4 linked regions of the Homo sapiens genome follow. The protein of the gene in region 1 purifies or fractionates together with the protein of each later gene. This does not show direct contact. Each region holds a gene or a part of one and is shown on either strand. Other genes may lie near its edges.

What was found. Proteins that work in one complex are often made in the same cells at the same time.
Region 2: the proteins of HS1BP3 (region 1) and NARF purify together in Homo sapiens (affinity purification with mass spectrometry; one large-scale study listed by BioGRID and IntAct). This does not show direct contact.
Region 3: the proteins of HS1BP3 (region 1) and TCHH purify together in Homo sapiens (affinity purification with mass spectrometry; one large-scale study listed by BioGRID and IntAct). This does not show direct contact.
Region 4: the proteins of HS1BP3 (region 1) and ACOX1 purify together in Homo sapiens (affinity purification with mass spectrometry; one large-scale study listed by BioGRID and IntAct). This does not show direct contact.

Annotation. Positions count from the first base shown.
Region 1 is NC_000002.12:20,620,052-20,623,982, forward strand, and holds part of HS1BP3 (HCLS1-binding protein 3), read right to left. Parts: coding exon 3,845-3,931; intron 2,269-3,844; coding exon of another isoform or gene 2,247-2,268; exon of another isoform or gene 2,136-2,246; intron 1-2,135. UniProt on the Homo sapiens protein: May be a modulator of IL-2 signaling.
Region 2 is NC_000017.11:82,468,560-82,472,490, reverse strand, and holds part of NARF (nuclear prelamin A recognition factor), read right to left. Parts: intron 3,728-3,931; coding exon 3,595-3,727; intron 1-3,594.
Region 3 is NC_000001.11:152,105,567-152,109,311, forward strand, and holds the end of TCHH (trichohyalin), read right to left. Parts: coding exon 1,819-3,745; 3' UTR 751-1,818; downstream 1-750. UniProt on the Homo sapiens protein: Intermediate filament-associated protein that associates in regular arrays with keratin intermediate filaments (KIF) of the inner root sheath cells of the hair follicle and the granular layer of the epidermis.
Region 4 is NC_000017.11:75,958,417-75,962,347, forward strand, and holds part of ACOX1 (peroxisomal acyl-coenzyme A oxidase 1), read right to left. Parts: intron 1,960-3,931; coding exon 1,799-1,959; intron 1-1,798. UniProt on the Homo sapiens protein: Involved in the initial and rate-limiting step of peroxisomal beta-oxidation of straight-chain saturated and unsaturated very-long-chain fatty acids.

The DNA of each region.
Region 1 (3,931 bases):
CTGAGGGCAAGAAACAGGCCAGGCCACTGATTCTCCAGAACTTGATTTCTGGAGACCAGATGCACAGTGGAAGACTCATTCAATCCATTCCACCCACTCAGCTCTGTGCTGAACACCCGTGATGGCCAGACATTTCCACATTCATTAACCCATTCAATAATCTCCAAACACTGTGTGGTCGCAGAGATTAGCCCCGTTTTACAGCTGAGAATACTGAGGTGCAGAGAGGCAAAGGGCCTTGCCCTGAGACCCACAGCTAGTGTGAGGATGAACAGGACTTGGCCTGCATGTGGCTGGTTCTCTGGGGTGTGTTCCCCTGGCTGGGGCACCTAGACTCCAGTGTCACGGCGAGGTTTTCCCTTGTGCTAACGGGCATCTCTACGTCTATCGCTCAGCCATGCTGGAATCAGGTGAGTGAAGGCAGAAGACCTGTAGCACCCACTTGGTCTCTACAAGCTTCGGCTTCCTCATCTACAAGCAGGAGTAACAGTGTCACTGGCACTGCTGCACGGAACTGTACACAGAAGCACAGCACTGCAGGAGGAGAACTGGCTTCCGTTCCTCACCCTGCAACTCCTCCATCAGGCAGCCTCAGGCCACTCCTCCTCCCTGGTCCTCAGTCTCTTCTATAAAGTGGGATTGTACTTGCTCTACCATCCTCACAGGGATTCTTACAAGGATCAAATAAGACAACACAAGGAAAGTAGTTTCCAAATGTACAGGAAGGCTGTATGTACTGATGTCTACTGACAGCCACAGGGGCTGAGCAAGTGGGCATAAGACACAGAAAAGCAGTGCCTCCACCTACAATGAGGGACACCCCCCAGCCCAGTCAGACAGGGGCCACATAATTGCAAAGGCCTGGAAAGAAGGTGTTGAAGTCCAGAGAAGGGAGTGAGCCCTTGGGCCAGAGCAGGCTGGGAAGGCCTCCTGGGAAGGTGGGTCTTTTCAGAAGGGTGAGCCTGGCATGAATAGGGGAGAGAATTCTGAAGAAGGGAGCAGACAGCAGAGGTCTGGAGGTGGGAATGAGAATGAACAGGAAGAACCAGGCAGGCTCATGAGCAGCGGCTTCTTGCCCTGGGGCAGGGCCGGGCAGGGGTGGGGATAGAGAGGCGATACCTCTGATCAGGACAACTCCTGGCACTACCAGAGAGCCTGTGTGAGTATGGAGGTGTCCAGCACAGCACCCCCAGGGGTGGATGCCTGCCTGGAGCCAGCTGTGGAAGGAGCTCCGGACACCCTGCCTGCTTCCTGGCTCAACCTCCTGTGATGGGGCACAAACCCCAGAGAGAGAATTCAGAGTCTGTTTGGATGGCAGAGAAATGAATAAAAGGTGTCCTTCTTGAACAAACCCAGAGGGACTGGCCCAAGCCGGGCCTTCATAGACAGACCAGCTGTCTTGGGGTAGAGGTGATTTCAGGAGGTGTCACTCATGGCCAGTCTGCTCCTGGCCACCTCAGGTCAGATGTTCCGGAGCTCCCTCCAAGTGGCAGCCCTTCCTTGACTCCCCCAGGGCAGGTGCCAGCTCCACTGGCATGATGCAGCCTCCATTGAAGGCTGAGGGTACCTGGGAAAAGCTCAAAGGGACTGAATTATCCTCAAATAGGGGCCCTTTGGAAAATAAAGCAGCCGCTAGAGGCTTATGTCAGATTTCAGGATTAGCCTGCTTGGCAAAGCAGTGACTCTTTGGAACTAATCAGCAGCTGGATTTGCTCCCAGGTGGGTGGTGTACACGGGTGGTCAGCCACGGTGGGAGGCAGCATAGCTGCTCTTGGGACACAGGAGGCTGCAAGGCACCCCTTTTCCAAGCACCCTATTTCTGAGTCATGACTAGGACTAGCTCTCACTAGCGCAAGGTCCAGCTCTTTTCTCCTCCAGGCCCAGCTGGTGTGAGGTCAACCAGTGGGGGGTAAGGGAGCTCTAAGACCCTGGCCCCATTCCTTCTCCCTGGGTTCCTGCGGAAGACAAGACTCACCTAAACATCTAGACTAGAGGCCCTGCCCTGGTGTGGCTGCACAGCCAGAAGGAACAAAGCCTTCTTAGCCTCGACCCGCTCAGTGTACACCCCACGCGGCCTCAGGGTGGCTGAGGCTAGTGACAGAATGAACGAAGGGGTGAAAGCATGAATGAATGAATGGCTATCAGAACATTCTTTATTATGAGGAAGTCCAACTACTCCCTGGATAGTCACAGGGCAGACACAAAGAATGAATGTGGTTCCTGCTCTCAAGAAGCTAATCCCAGTGTTACGGCTCTTTTTGAATTTGTCTGAATTTAAAAAAAAGAAAAGCAGTTAATCCTTTCATTAGCAGATGTCTGCTAAAGTGAAGGTGGGGGTGCGGGACCCACACTTTTTGAGCAGGGACTCCCCAAGCGCTCTGCGGGATGCTAAGGGGCACCACAGAGTGGGGGGCCCAGGGATGAATGAGAACGTGAAGTGCCATGTGGTGCTGGCCCGCGCACTACGAGCCCTGCTTTTTGTGGCATTTCCCCAATTCATCAGCCACAGAGCCCCTTTGAAGATAGCCTTTGACCACCCCACTGTACCACGTTCTGCAGAACACAGGTTGGGAAGTAACGGATTTAGAATAAACTAGGCCAGAAAGGTCCCACGAGAGCCACCCCACTGGGACACATGGACTCCTAGACATGCTCGGCCTGGCCCTGCTGCTCCGCAGGCAGACTCTAGTATTTCATTTCCCTGTGCCTCGGTTTCCCTCTAATAAAATAACAATCCTGGTTTCTTCCAGCCCGCTGGGATGTCAGGAGCGAGGACACAGGATGAGAGTGAACAGATGCCAGGGGCCTTGGGGACATGTAAATACCAGAAGCCGTCACGGTGACTCAGGCTTGGCGGGCACTTGCAGGGCTGTCTAATAGCCCGAGGCTGCTAATGAGGGGTACAGATGACAGCCTCCAGGGCCTGCATGCCTTGGTGTCACATAAGCCGTTCCTGGAAAGAGGCGGCCTGGCTTCCTCTGAATCCCAGGCACAGTCCTGTGTCCTGGAGCATGGAGTGGGAGCTGGAGACACGCACAACACTGAGTCTGCTGAGAATGTGGCCAGTGGAGGTAAAGGCCTGGGGAGAACTGGGGGGCTGGGTGGGGAGGCAGATCACCCAGCCAAGTGCTCAGACAGTCCCTGATGAAGTGGAGAGGCCAGGCCAGGGGCAGAGCAGGGGTCTTAGCCAGGTGGCGTCCCACACTTGATTTCTTATAATATGGAGAAAATAGCATCCACCTTAGGGGGCTGTCGTGAAGATTACATAAGAGAGCGTGTAAGGAGTCTGGCTTACTGCGTACACAGCAAGGACTCAGGAAATAGGAGCTGTCACCGGCACAGGTTCTGCCAATTGACCTCCATGTGACAGCTGAGGCCTCATTCTCCCTTCCTTCTGTGAAAGCTGCCGACCGGGCCCTCCGGCAGAGAGGCCATCACCAAGACATCTGCACTTTGCCCCCTCGCTGGGTGGGCTGCATGCTGCCATGAGTCCGTTTAATTTGTTCCCAAACTTGCTTATGCCAGTTATACCTGCTCTTGCAATTATATAATTTAATTATTCTTTACATAAACTGTTAAAATATGATTGTGAAAAGAAAGACTGGTTGTGCACACAAAGTTCTCTCTTTCTGGAACTAGCTGAGCAGCCCTGGGCTGCGGATCCTCCCCCTCAGCCCCCTTCACCGCCTCTCACCCAATGTGCACCCACAGGCTTCTACTTTTCACAGGCCTGGGGTCCTCCCCTCAGAGGAGGCTGGGGCTGAGACTGGGCAATGAGCCGGGCCCTTGGCTCTGTCCAGAACACTCTCAGAGCTGGCCAAGCGCCGCTGGGGACAGGTGGTACCTGAACAGTTCCTTGGAGGCGTCCCTGTGGCTGAGGCTGGGTGTGGGCCCTCCACTCTCACAGGCGGCTGGCAGCAGGAGGGAGTCA
Region 2 (3,931 bases), on another chromosome or scaffold:
TTTTTTTGAGACGGAGTCTCGTTCTGTCACCCAGGCTAGAGTGCAGTGGCATAATCTCGGCTCACTGCAACCTCCGCCTCCCAGGTTCAAGTGATCCTCCCACCTCAGTCTCCCGAGTAACTGGGATTACAGGTGCCCGCCATCATGCCTGGCCAATTTTTGTATTTTTTAGTAGAGATGAGGTTTCACCATGTTGGCCAGGCTGGTCTTGAATTCCTAGCCTCAAGTGATCTACCCACCTTGGCCTCCCAGAGTGCTGGAATTACAGGCGTGAACCACTGCATCCAGCCAATACTTCTTCATTCTTACTCATTTTTGCTTTCTCACGTTTAAGAGACAAACTTAAAGCATAGATTCTACAGGCATCCCTCCTAAGATAATAAAATCAGTCTTGGTTCTTATCTATTCCTAACGGCCTAAGTTCAAGACCGTGTGCTTTACCTTTTATTTTGTAAACAATGAGCGTGTATGATTTTTCACAATGAAATATGTATGTTCTCTCTCATGCTTCTTCCCTCTCTACATTTTAAAACACCTTACTCCATATATAAATTAATGAAATATTACAACGTACCCACAGCATTCCCTTCCAATTCACAGGCAAATTAAATTTCAGTCTGTGATGGTTCTTGATGTGTTTAAAAGTAGAACGTACAGTAAAAGTATAGAATGGCTGGGCATACTTTTTTTTTTTTTTTTGAGACGGAGTCTCACTCTTTCGCGCAAGCTGGACTGCAGTGGCGCTATCCCGGCTCACTGCAAGCTCCGCCTCTTGGGTTCATGCCATTCTCCTGCCTCAGCCTCCCGAGTAGCTGGGACTACAGGCGCCCACCACCACGCCCGGCTAATTTTTTGTATTTTTAGTAGAGATGGGGTTTCACCGTGTTAGCCAGGATGGTCTCGATCTCCTGACCTCGTGATCCGCCCGCCTCGGCCTCCCAAAGTGCTGGGATTACAGGCGTGAGCCACCGCGCCCGGCAAGGGCATACTTTTATAATGGCTTAAATTTTTATACTGAATTTTTTTTTTTTTTTTTGAGACAGTGTCTCGCCCTGTTGCCCAGGCTGGAGTGCAGTGGCGTGATCTCGGCTCACTGCAAGCTCCGCCTCCCAGGTTCACACCATTCTCCTGCTTCGGCCTCCCAAGTAGCTGGGACTACAGGCGCCCGTCACCACGCCCGGCTACTTTTTTGAATTTTTAGTAGAGACAGAGTTTCACTGCGTTAGCCAGGATGGTCTCAATCTCCTGACCTCGTGATCCGCCCACCTCGGCCTCCCAAAGTGCTGGGATTACAGGCGTGAGCCAACATGCCCAGCCTTTTTTTTTTTTCAGACAGTCATGCTCTGTCACCCAGGCTGGAGTGTGGTGACGCAATCTCAACTCACCGCAAACCTCTGCTTCCTGGGTCTGAGCGATTCTTGTGCCTCAGCCTCCCGAGTAGCTGGGATTACAGGTGTCTGCCACCATGCCAGGCTAATTTTTGTATTTTTAGTGGAGATGGGGTTTTGCCATGTTGGGCCAGGCTGGTCTCAAACTCCTGACCTCAGGTGATCTGCCCCCTCGGCCTCCCAAAGTGCTGGGATTACAGACATGAGCCACCACACCCGGCCTGATTTTTTTAATTTTAAATTTTTTGTTTCTCCCCCTCCCCAGGTAACAAAGCTGAGAGAAAATGCAACTAGCTATAATAAATATTAGGCTGGGCACGGTGGCTCACCCCTGGAATCCCAGTACTTTGGGAGTCCAAGGCGGTTAGATCATGAGGTCAGGAGATCGAGACCATCCTGGCTAACATGGTGAAACCCCATCTTTACTAAAAATACAAAAAATTAGCCGGGCGTGGTGGCGGGCGCCTGTAGTCCCAGCCACTCGGGAGGCTGAGGCAGGAGAATGGTGTGAACCCGGGAGGTGGAGCTTGCAGTGAGCCGAGATGGCGCCACTGCACCCCAGCCTGGGTGACAGATCAAGACTCCGTCTCAAGAACAACAAAAAAAGAAATATTATAAATTTTAAAATATTACATTAAGAAATCCATTTTACTGTGGATACATTTTATTGATATATAACATTCCGTTACATCATTTTAAGAATCTAGCCCCAAATAAGGGCTTTCATCGTGAGAATATATAGCATTTGACAACTCTGATCTTCAGTGTAACTAACCTAACCCGAGGCTTTATGATGACAAGCATGAAGGAGCGACCTAACGTGTGGGCACCTGTCGCTGTAGCTGGGTTTCAGCTGCAGCACATTATGTGCTAGATGACCAGGTCTTGTTAGAGCCCAGGCGCCTAGGGCACAGGGAGCATCAGGACCCCCAGGCTGCTGCTTAGACTTCAAGCCTGTCCTGATGATCCTTATTCCAAATATCATTTTATTTCACCAGTAATCCCCAATATATCTACATTTATGTACTTATTTAGCAGAGATAGGATCTTGTTATGTTGTCGAGGCTGGTCTCGAGCTCCTGGCCTCAAGTAATCTTCTGGTCTTGGCCTTCCAAAGTGCTGGGATTACAGGCATGAGCCACCAAACCTGACCAATATTTATAATTTTTAAAAGCCGCTGTAGAATAATAAAAACTCTTGGCCAGGCACGGTGGCACATGCCTGTAATCCCAGCACTTTGGGAGGCCAAGGCGGGTGGATCACGAGGTCAAGAGATTAAGACCATCCTGGCCAACATGGTGAAACATCATCTCTACTAAAAATACAAAAATTAGCCGGGAGTGGTGGCGCGCACCTGTAGTCCCAGCTACTTGGGAGGCTGAGGCAGGAGAATCTCTTGAACCCGGGAGGCGGAGGTTGCAGTGAGCCAAGATCGCATCATTGCACTCCAGCCTGGGGCACCAAGAGCGAGACTCCAGCTCAAAAAACAAACAAACAAACAAACAAACAACAAAAAAAACCTCTTATTTGGCAACTCGCTCATTTTCCCTTTCTGAACTTGCACACTGACCATCATGCTATGAGGATGCTCAAGGCTGTAAAAGCCCCTCTATAAGCAAATGGAGGGAGGCAGTTCCCCTTTGACCAAAGCAGAAGACGCAGAAGCATCATCCATCAACATTTCAGGTAGTACTATTCCAGCGTTGACATCCGAGTTCTTTTATTATATTCTTAAATTTCTACCTTTCATTCCTCAAGTAAAGAACACAAGCCCATTCCCTTTCTGCTCTGCTCTTCAGAGAGCTTCTTGGGAAACCAGATACTAATCATTTCAGAAGTGACTGTTTATCAAATGCACACCCTCTGGGGGTAAGGGGTGACTTGGAGGTTGCTGGGCCAGTGTGGGAATCTCCCAGTGTCCTGTCCGTGTTGTCAGAAGGTGGTCACTGTTTGGTCCCAGAGGGGTCAGCTCCCACTGTGTAACAAAACACCTGTCTGTGCACAGCAAAGGAGAAAAGTGACACTCGTCTACCATCGATCAGAGGCTGGGTTTCATGACACACGGGACATGGTCTTTTTACGTTCCAAGAGACTCTTTTGGAAGTTGCTTATCTACCCTGCGTCCTTGAAAAACGAACTTTAGAGATTAAAAAGGGCGCTTATAAACTCAAGTTATACATTCCCAATTTATCAAAAGATGACTCACCAAGACTTTTGAGGAAACCACAGAGTCTTCTGGATGCATCAGTTACACTGAGGTTGAATTTAGCAGCAAAATAAGGCAAAGATTGAGGACACACAGACACTACCAGCACTTTGTGCTTTGAGGTATCACATTTCTAGAAGGAGAAATAGAGAATGTTAGGTATCTGCTGATTACACAAGGAGTAAAAGTTACACACCTTAATGAGAAATTCAGAACAACGTTAATAGATGGTCTATGCAAAGACTAATAAAATAGACAAACACTGGCAAACATAATTAAGAAAAAGGAGAAAAAAAATCAGGATTATGGTGAGGTTTGGGCTTCTGGTAAATATTTT
Region 3 (3,745 bases), on another chromosome or scaffold:
CTATCAGAATGATACTCAGGAGCCATAAGCCTAGCTTGTCTCCACCACTGATCAAAATGTTGAGTGACTATAACTTTAGGGCATCTTCTCATCATGATCTTAGAAATGACATTGTTTTGATCAGGGCCTTCTTGGGCTTATTTCTAGTTAGTAAACTATGAATACTAAAAATAAGAATCCAGCAGGCAGCACAGGCGTGTTTGTTATTATCTAATAAATTATTATCTAACAAGATAATAATTTGATACTTCAGCCTGATTACTATTAAGTACCTTCTGACTCAGTCACCTCATGGATTATGTTGCTTAAATTAACAGGACATCTACAGTTTTTATAGTGCTGATCTGAAGTTTCAGGCCATTTTCTATCATTGGCTCATCAGACATCAGAGACTAAGAAGCTGCTGCATTCTCTAAAGGAAATATTAACAAATATTGGGAGCACCAGTATTTGTCATGACCAGTGAGTCGCTGCAAGAAATGGCATAGAAAGCTGTGGGGTCAAGAACAAAAACACTCTGGAAGGCAATCTCAGTGTGGGGATGGAAATAGAGTTCAGCCTAACTGCAAAAAAAAAAAAAAAAAAAAAAAAAAAAAAGGTTGGGGAAAAACAAAGAATTCTCTCCCCTCTTTTTTCGTATTTGGACATAGATAAGTAACAAAATGCCCTTATGTGATTGGGAACTTGTGTTAGTTTCCAGACAATGAGATCTTGTTATGATTGACGCAGAGTTAAAACAGACAAAAGTAGTTACTTGCCAAACATTTATTATTAATTTTTCACAGTCCAATTATTTCAACAAGAATATATCTAAGGTATTATCAATAGGCCTCAAATGATTGTGGGCAAATGGGTCTTGTCAAAGGGCCTCTAGAAATTTGCCCCTATGTTCACACATTTTTCCCTTTTACACCCCCAACATGCTCTATGTGATCTCTTATTGGCCCTAGAGTAAGACAGATGTTTATGGGATTCTGAGCAGCTTCCTTCTAACAAGCTAAAATTAACAAAGGTTCATAATATTCTGAAACTCATCAAAACTTGGGGAAGTAGAATGAACACTATAGACTACAACAGACACAGTTTTAAAATTTGAACTCTGAAGTTGAGAAACACCTCATTATTTCTTCATGAGATTATGTGTTTAAGTGGAGTTGAGTTTAAAAAAAATCTAATTTAAATTCTAAATCTTCAAAGCTAAACCTATTCTTAACAGATATTTCTTCCAGTAATGGGCTGATTTTACAGGAAGTTTTTATGCAGAGGTCACTCCCCCTGCACTATTCAAGGGTTATAAAAATTTAGTTACCTGGAATTTGTGCTAACTATGCCACAAAAGATGAAATGCTGTTTGGAGGCAATGATCAATTTAGGTTCAAGAAGAAATAGCAACTTGAACATTAAAAGTATCTGCACTTTCCACAAGATGGGTCAGTCATTAAACAAACCGACCCATTGTTTAGAATCTCAAATCATCCTATTACTCTTGTTACTTCTGAAAGCAATAAATGAACATGTTCCTCAAACAAAATTTCTTAAACAAATTAAATGATTTATATTTTTTTTAAATGCACACCACATCTGCATCAAAGAGCAAAAGAAAGACATCTTGCAGTAAAGAACTACTTGAGGAAGAATAAAAAGCAGAAGTACAAAGTGCGTAAAATGAGCGTAGTTTAAGATTTTGGAAGAAAAGACATTCTAATATCAGAGAGTTTTCCCACAACCAGAAACATCTGAGTTATCACTTGGTACCCAGTGTTTCTCATTTTCCCGTGCTCGAAGCTTTGGCAGGTGTCAAGATATTGGCAACATCACTTAAGGGCGGTATTGAGATCTCTGCTCTTGGATGTACTCATAGAGAGGGCTGGAGCGCACTGGGACACTGGCAAACTGATGAGTGCCGGGCTCCAGAAGCCGCCCATGGCCCTTCCCTTCTTGGGATTTTATCTCCCCGACTTGGCGGTGCCTCTGTTCCTCCTTCTGCTGGCGGCGGATGTGTTCTTCCCGTAATTTCCTTTCCCGTTCCTGGCGACGTTTCTGCTCCTCTTCTTGCCATAGTTCTTGTTCCTCACGACGACTCTTCTCCTGCGTGGCAAACTGCTCCTCCGCCCGGTACTGCCGGTCTCGCTCCTGCCGCAGCCTCTGCTCTTGTTCCTCAAGTTGGAGCTGCTCTTCTTCCCAGCGATACTTTCCGTCACGCTGTTGGGGGCGCAGCTGCTGTTCTTCCCTCTCCTGGCGTAGCTGTTCCTCCTCGCGGAATTTTCTGTCAGACTCTTGGCTGCGCAGCTGCTGTTCCTCCCTCTCCTGGCGGAGCTGTTCCTCCTCGCGGAATTTTCTGTCGCGCTCCTGGCGGCGCAGCTGCTGTTCTTCCCTTTCCGGACGGAGCTGCTCTTCCTCTAGGATTTTTCTGTAGCGTTCTTGGCGGCGCAGCTGCTCTTGCTCCGTTTCTTGGCGCAGCTGTTCCTCCTCACGGAATTTTCTCTCCAGTTCCTGGCGGCGCAGCTGCTGTTCCTCCTGGAGGAATTTTCTCTCTCGTTCCTGACGGCGGAGCTGCTGTTCCTCTTCGCGGAATTTTCTGTCACGCTCTTGGCGGCGCAGCTGCTGTTCCTCCCCTTCCTGGAGCAGCTGTTCCTCTTCACGGAATTTTCTGTCGCGGTCGTGACGCAGCTGTTGTTCGCGCTCCTGGCGGCGCAGCTGCGGTTCCTCCTCGAGGAATTTTCTGTCACGCTCTTGGCGGTGCAGCTGCTGTTCTTCCCTTTCCTGGAGCAGCTGTTCGTCTTCGCGGAATTTTCTGTCGCGCTCCTGGCGCAGCTGTTGTTGGCCCTCCTGGCGGCGCAGCTGCTGTTCGTCCTCCATGAATTTTCTCTCTTGTTCCTGGCGGCGCACTTTCTGTTCCTCTAAACGGAATTTTCTGTCACGCTCTTGGCGGCTCAGCTGCTGTTCCTCCCTCTCCTGGCGCAGCTGTTCCTCCTCGCGGAATTTTCTGTCACGGTCCTGACGCCGCTGTTGCCCGCGCTCCTGGCGGCGCAGCTGCTGTTCCTCCTGGAGGAATTTTCTCTGCCGTTGCTGGCGGTGCAGCTGCTGTTCCTCCTCGAGGAATTTTCTCTCTGGTTCCTGACTGCGCAGTTCCTGTTCGCGGAATTTTCTGTCACGCTCTTGGCGGCGCAGCTGTTGTTCCTCCTCCAGGAATTTTCTGTCACGCTCTTGGCGGTGCAGCTGCTGTTCTTCCCTTTCCTGGAGCAGCTGTTCCTCTTCGCGGAATTTTCTGTGACGCTCCTGGCGCAGCTGCTGTTCCTCCTCCAGGAATTTTCTCTCTCGTTCCTGGCGGCGCACCTGCTGTTCCTCTTCACGGAATTTTCTGTCACGCTCTTGGCGGCTCAGCTGCTGTTCCTCCTCGCGGAATTTTCTGTCGCGGTCCTGACGCAGCTGTTGCTCGCGCTCCTGGCAGCGCAGCTGCTGTTCCTCCTTAAGGAATTTTCTCTCCCGTTCCTGGCGGCGCAGCCGCTGTTCCTCCTCGAGGAATTTTCTCCCTTGTTCCTGATGGCGCAGTTCCTCTTCGCGGAATTTTCTGTCACGCTCTTGGCGGCGCAGCGGCTGTTCCTCCCTTTCCTGGAGCAGCTGTTCCTCCTCGCGGAATTTTCTGTCTGTCTCTTGACGGCGTCTCTTCTCTTCTCTTTCCTCTCTCAGCAACTGCTTTTCCTCTTGGGACTTCCTGTCGCGCCTTTTGGCTTCCTTTTGCTCT
Region 4 (3,931 bases), on another chromosome or scaffold:
CCAGCACTTTGGGAGGCCGAGGTGGGGGGATCACGAGGTCAGGAGATTGAGACCATCCTGGCTAAAGTGGTGAAACCCCGTCTCTACTAAAAAAACAACAAAAAAATTAAAGCTGGGCACGGTGGCTCACGCCTGTAATCCCAGCACTTTGGGGGGCCAAGGCGGGCGGATCACAAAGTCAGGAGATCGAGACCATCCTGGTTAACACGGCGAAACCCCGTCTCTACTAAAAATACAAAAAATTAGCTGGGCATGGTGGTGGGTGCCTGTAGTCCCAGCTACTCGGGAGGCTGAGGCAGGAGAATGGCGTGAACCCGGAAGGTGGAGCTTGCAGTGAGCTGAGATCGCGCCACTGCACTCCAGCCTGGGCGACAGAGCACGACTCCGTCTCAAAAAAAAAAAAAAAAAAAGTATAAAAGTATAACTGTTATTGGGGAAATGACCTGAAATGTGACTTTTAAAAATTCCTAAAGGTCCAATAATAAGGTCTCAGTTGACCCTAGAGATTTCCAATGGCAGGCCTAACTTAGTCCTGCTGGTTCATTAATGTGGCAAGGAAGAGTTTCCAGTTTCTTATGTGTACTGGGATAGACAGGATCTTATGTTTTAAATCTTAACACAAATATATCAAAATTATTTGAAAAGAGTCATAGAAAAATGTTCTAGGTGGCAGTCTCTACAAAAATACTGTACTAAAGCAAACGTTGGGAACCTTTTACCAATCTGCTTTCATAACGCTTAGACCTCATTAAACACACTTTGAAACATTTAGAAGCTTCCAAGTTGAATAACCAACTTATGTGCAATCCACAACTTTCCCGAGTGGGAGTCAACAAATCAGACACAGACATCTTTCATCAAAGAAGCAGCTTTTACAGAAAAGCAGATAACATTAAACAGAACAGATAAGGACAAAATGTTTTCAAAAGCACAACTGAAACAAATAGTATTCCACTTGGAGTCTCATGAAAATCCTGTAAAATACTATTCAACACCAAATAAAAAGCAGCAGCTGTATAGAAATAAGGAGCAAGTGGCAAATACACACTAGACCAGTTTTTCTGAAACGTCAGAGCAGAAAAAGAGAAGCCATAAGCAAATGAATGGCAAACACGGACCCAATTCAGAGAAGATACAAAGAGGAACAGCGGCCACCTCCAGCCCACCCAGGTGCATGAAGAAAGCAGGTGGGGGGTGGAAAGATCAATGAAAGGTGGAGATACAGAGTCTGAAACCAAATGCCTGCAAGTTCGGCTTATCTTGGTTTTTTCACTCTCCAGCCAAGTCACTTGCAGAACTACTGATTGACTCAAAGTACAAATAACTCCAAAATGTCACACACGTCAGTTATAAGCTACTCATTTCCCTCAAGCAAATCCAAGAGTACACAAACTATTATTTGTATTTCTTCTGGAATTTGTACTCATTAAGGTATCAGTAGTAAAGGTAATCAGATAGTAATGAAGAAAAAAACAGCTTCGGGTTGTATATGCACACAGATTCTATACAACCTCAGTAACATTGAAAAACCACTTGGTAAATAAGGCCTGATTTGCAATTCTTGACCCTCTGAAGGGGAACTATGGTATAAAAAGGACAATCATTTTATCAGTATCATGGTCTTTAATTCCCACTCACCAAAGCAGTGTTTATACCAAAACCTGGACTCTGCAGAAAGAGCTCATTTAAACAGACCATAGAACATCGACACACCATCGATGGCACATGGTGGGCACTCCACACATGGTAAGCTCACAGGGGCCCGCCCAACCCAGAAGGTAGACTGAATACTCCATACCATGACCCATCTCTGTCTGGGCATAAGTGCCAATGATCTCCAAGTTCCAGGCGGGCATGAAGAAGCGCTCCTGCTGCTCCGCAGTTGCCTGGTGAAGCAAGGTGGGCAGGAACATGCCCAAGTGAAGATCCAGAGGCTCAGGCCGCCCTCGGTGCACAAAACTTCGAGGAAATATCAAGGATGGGCATTTGAGAGAAGAGTCATCAGGTGTGAGAGAATCAGCAATTTAAATAGAGCAAGGGAAGGAGACAAAAAAACCTTAAGTATGAATTAGTTGCGTGCACTTAATCATAGATGGGAGCACTGTCCCTTTCTGTATTACTTTATAGCTCTTGTTAATTTCCATTTTTCCTGAGTCGGCAAGGAGTACGAGGACAGGGATTGGTTACTGATTCCAAAGCCAATGCAGCACAAAACCACACGTGCAAGGCAGAGGATCCTCGCCCAGGAATTAAATCAAAGGAAATAAAGAAAATTTGAGAGGCCAGTGCAGTGGATCATGCCTACAATCTCAGCACTTTGGGAGGCCAAGGCGGTCAGATCACCTTAAGTCAGGAGTTCGAGACCAGCCTGGCCAACATGGCAAAGCCCTGACTCTACTAAAAATACAAAAATCAGCTGAACGTGGTGGCGCCAGCCAGTAGTCCCAGCTATTTGGGAGCCTGAGGCAGGAAAATCGCTTGAACCTAGGAGGCGGAGGTTGCAGTGAGCCGAGATCATGCCCACTGCATTCCAGCCTGGGTGACAGAGTGAGACTCTGTCTCAAAAAAAATAAATAAATAAATAAGAGAGAATTGGCCAGGTGCAGTGGCTCCCACCTATAATCTCAGCACTCTGAGAGGCCGAGGTGGGTGGATCACCTGAGGTCAGGAGTTCAAGACCAGCCTGGCCAACATGGCGAAACCCTGTCTCTACTAAAAATACAAAAATTAAGCAGGCATGGTGGTGCACACCTGTAATCCCAGCTACTCAGGAGGCTGAGGCAGGAGAATTGCTCCAACCCAGGAGGCAGAGGTTGCAGTGAGCTAAGATAACACCACTGCATTCTAGCCTGGGCGACACAGTGAGACTCCATCTCAAAAAAAAAAAAAAAAAGAGAGAGAGAATTTGAAAAGTTGTATAGGGCCAGGCATGGTGGCTCATGCCTGTAATCCTAGCACTTTGGGAGGCTGACGCAGGCGGATCACTTGAGGTCAGGAGTTTGAGACCAGCCTGGCCAACATAGTGAAATCCCGTTTCTACTAAAAATACAAAAAAAAAAAAAAAAAAAAAAGGCCGGGCACCGTGGCTCATGCCTGTAATCCCAGCACTTTGAGAGGCCAAGGTGGGCGGATCACCTGAGGTCAGGAGTTCAAGACCAGCCTGACCAACATGGTGAGACCCCATCTCTACTAAATATACAAAATCAGCCAGGTGTGGTGGCACATGCCTGTAATCCAAGCTACTTGGGAGACTGAGGCAGGAGAACCTGGGAGGCGGTGGTTGCAGTGAGCCGAGATCACACCACTGCACTCCAGCCTGGGCAACAGAGCGAGACTCTGTCTCAAAAAAAAAAAAAAAAAAAAAAAGTTGTATAGAATGGAGAATTTGCTGGGTGTGGTGGCATGTGCCTGTAATCCCAGCTACTTGGGATGCTGAGGCAGAATCGCTTGAAGCCAGGAGTCGGAGAACAGAGAATTTGAGTGGTACTGGTACAAGGATTTCCTCTGATGAGAAAGCGAGACAGAACATAGTAGTTCTCTCAGAGTGACAGTATGACCCCCAGATTATAGTTTTTCCTCGATGCAATTTCAATAATGCTTCTAGGCTGGGATTTTTTTTCTGTTTTGTCCACAAAACATCCAGCGTAGAACCATATTCCTCACATAGCTCTGATCATTTCATTCAGATTCATCATGTCAAATATTCGGCCACGCTCTACTGAAACACTTTAATACAAAAACTGACAGTGCTCTTCATCCCAATAATTTATTTCAGAAATTAAAAAAGACATGCAATTTCTAGTGAAGACCATAATAACGACAAGTTACAGATTCATGCATAAGCTCTCCGTGACAATTATACAGAAATTATCATTAATGATAATAAACAGCTTTATTAGTTTTAAATCAACTTTCTGGGGTCATTCTTTTC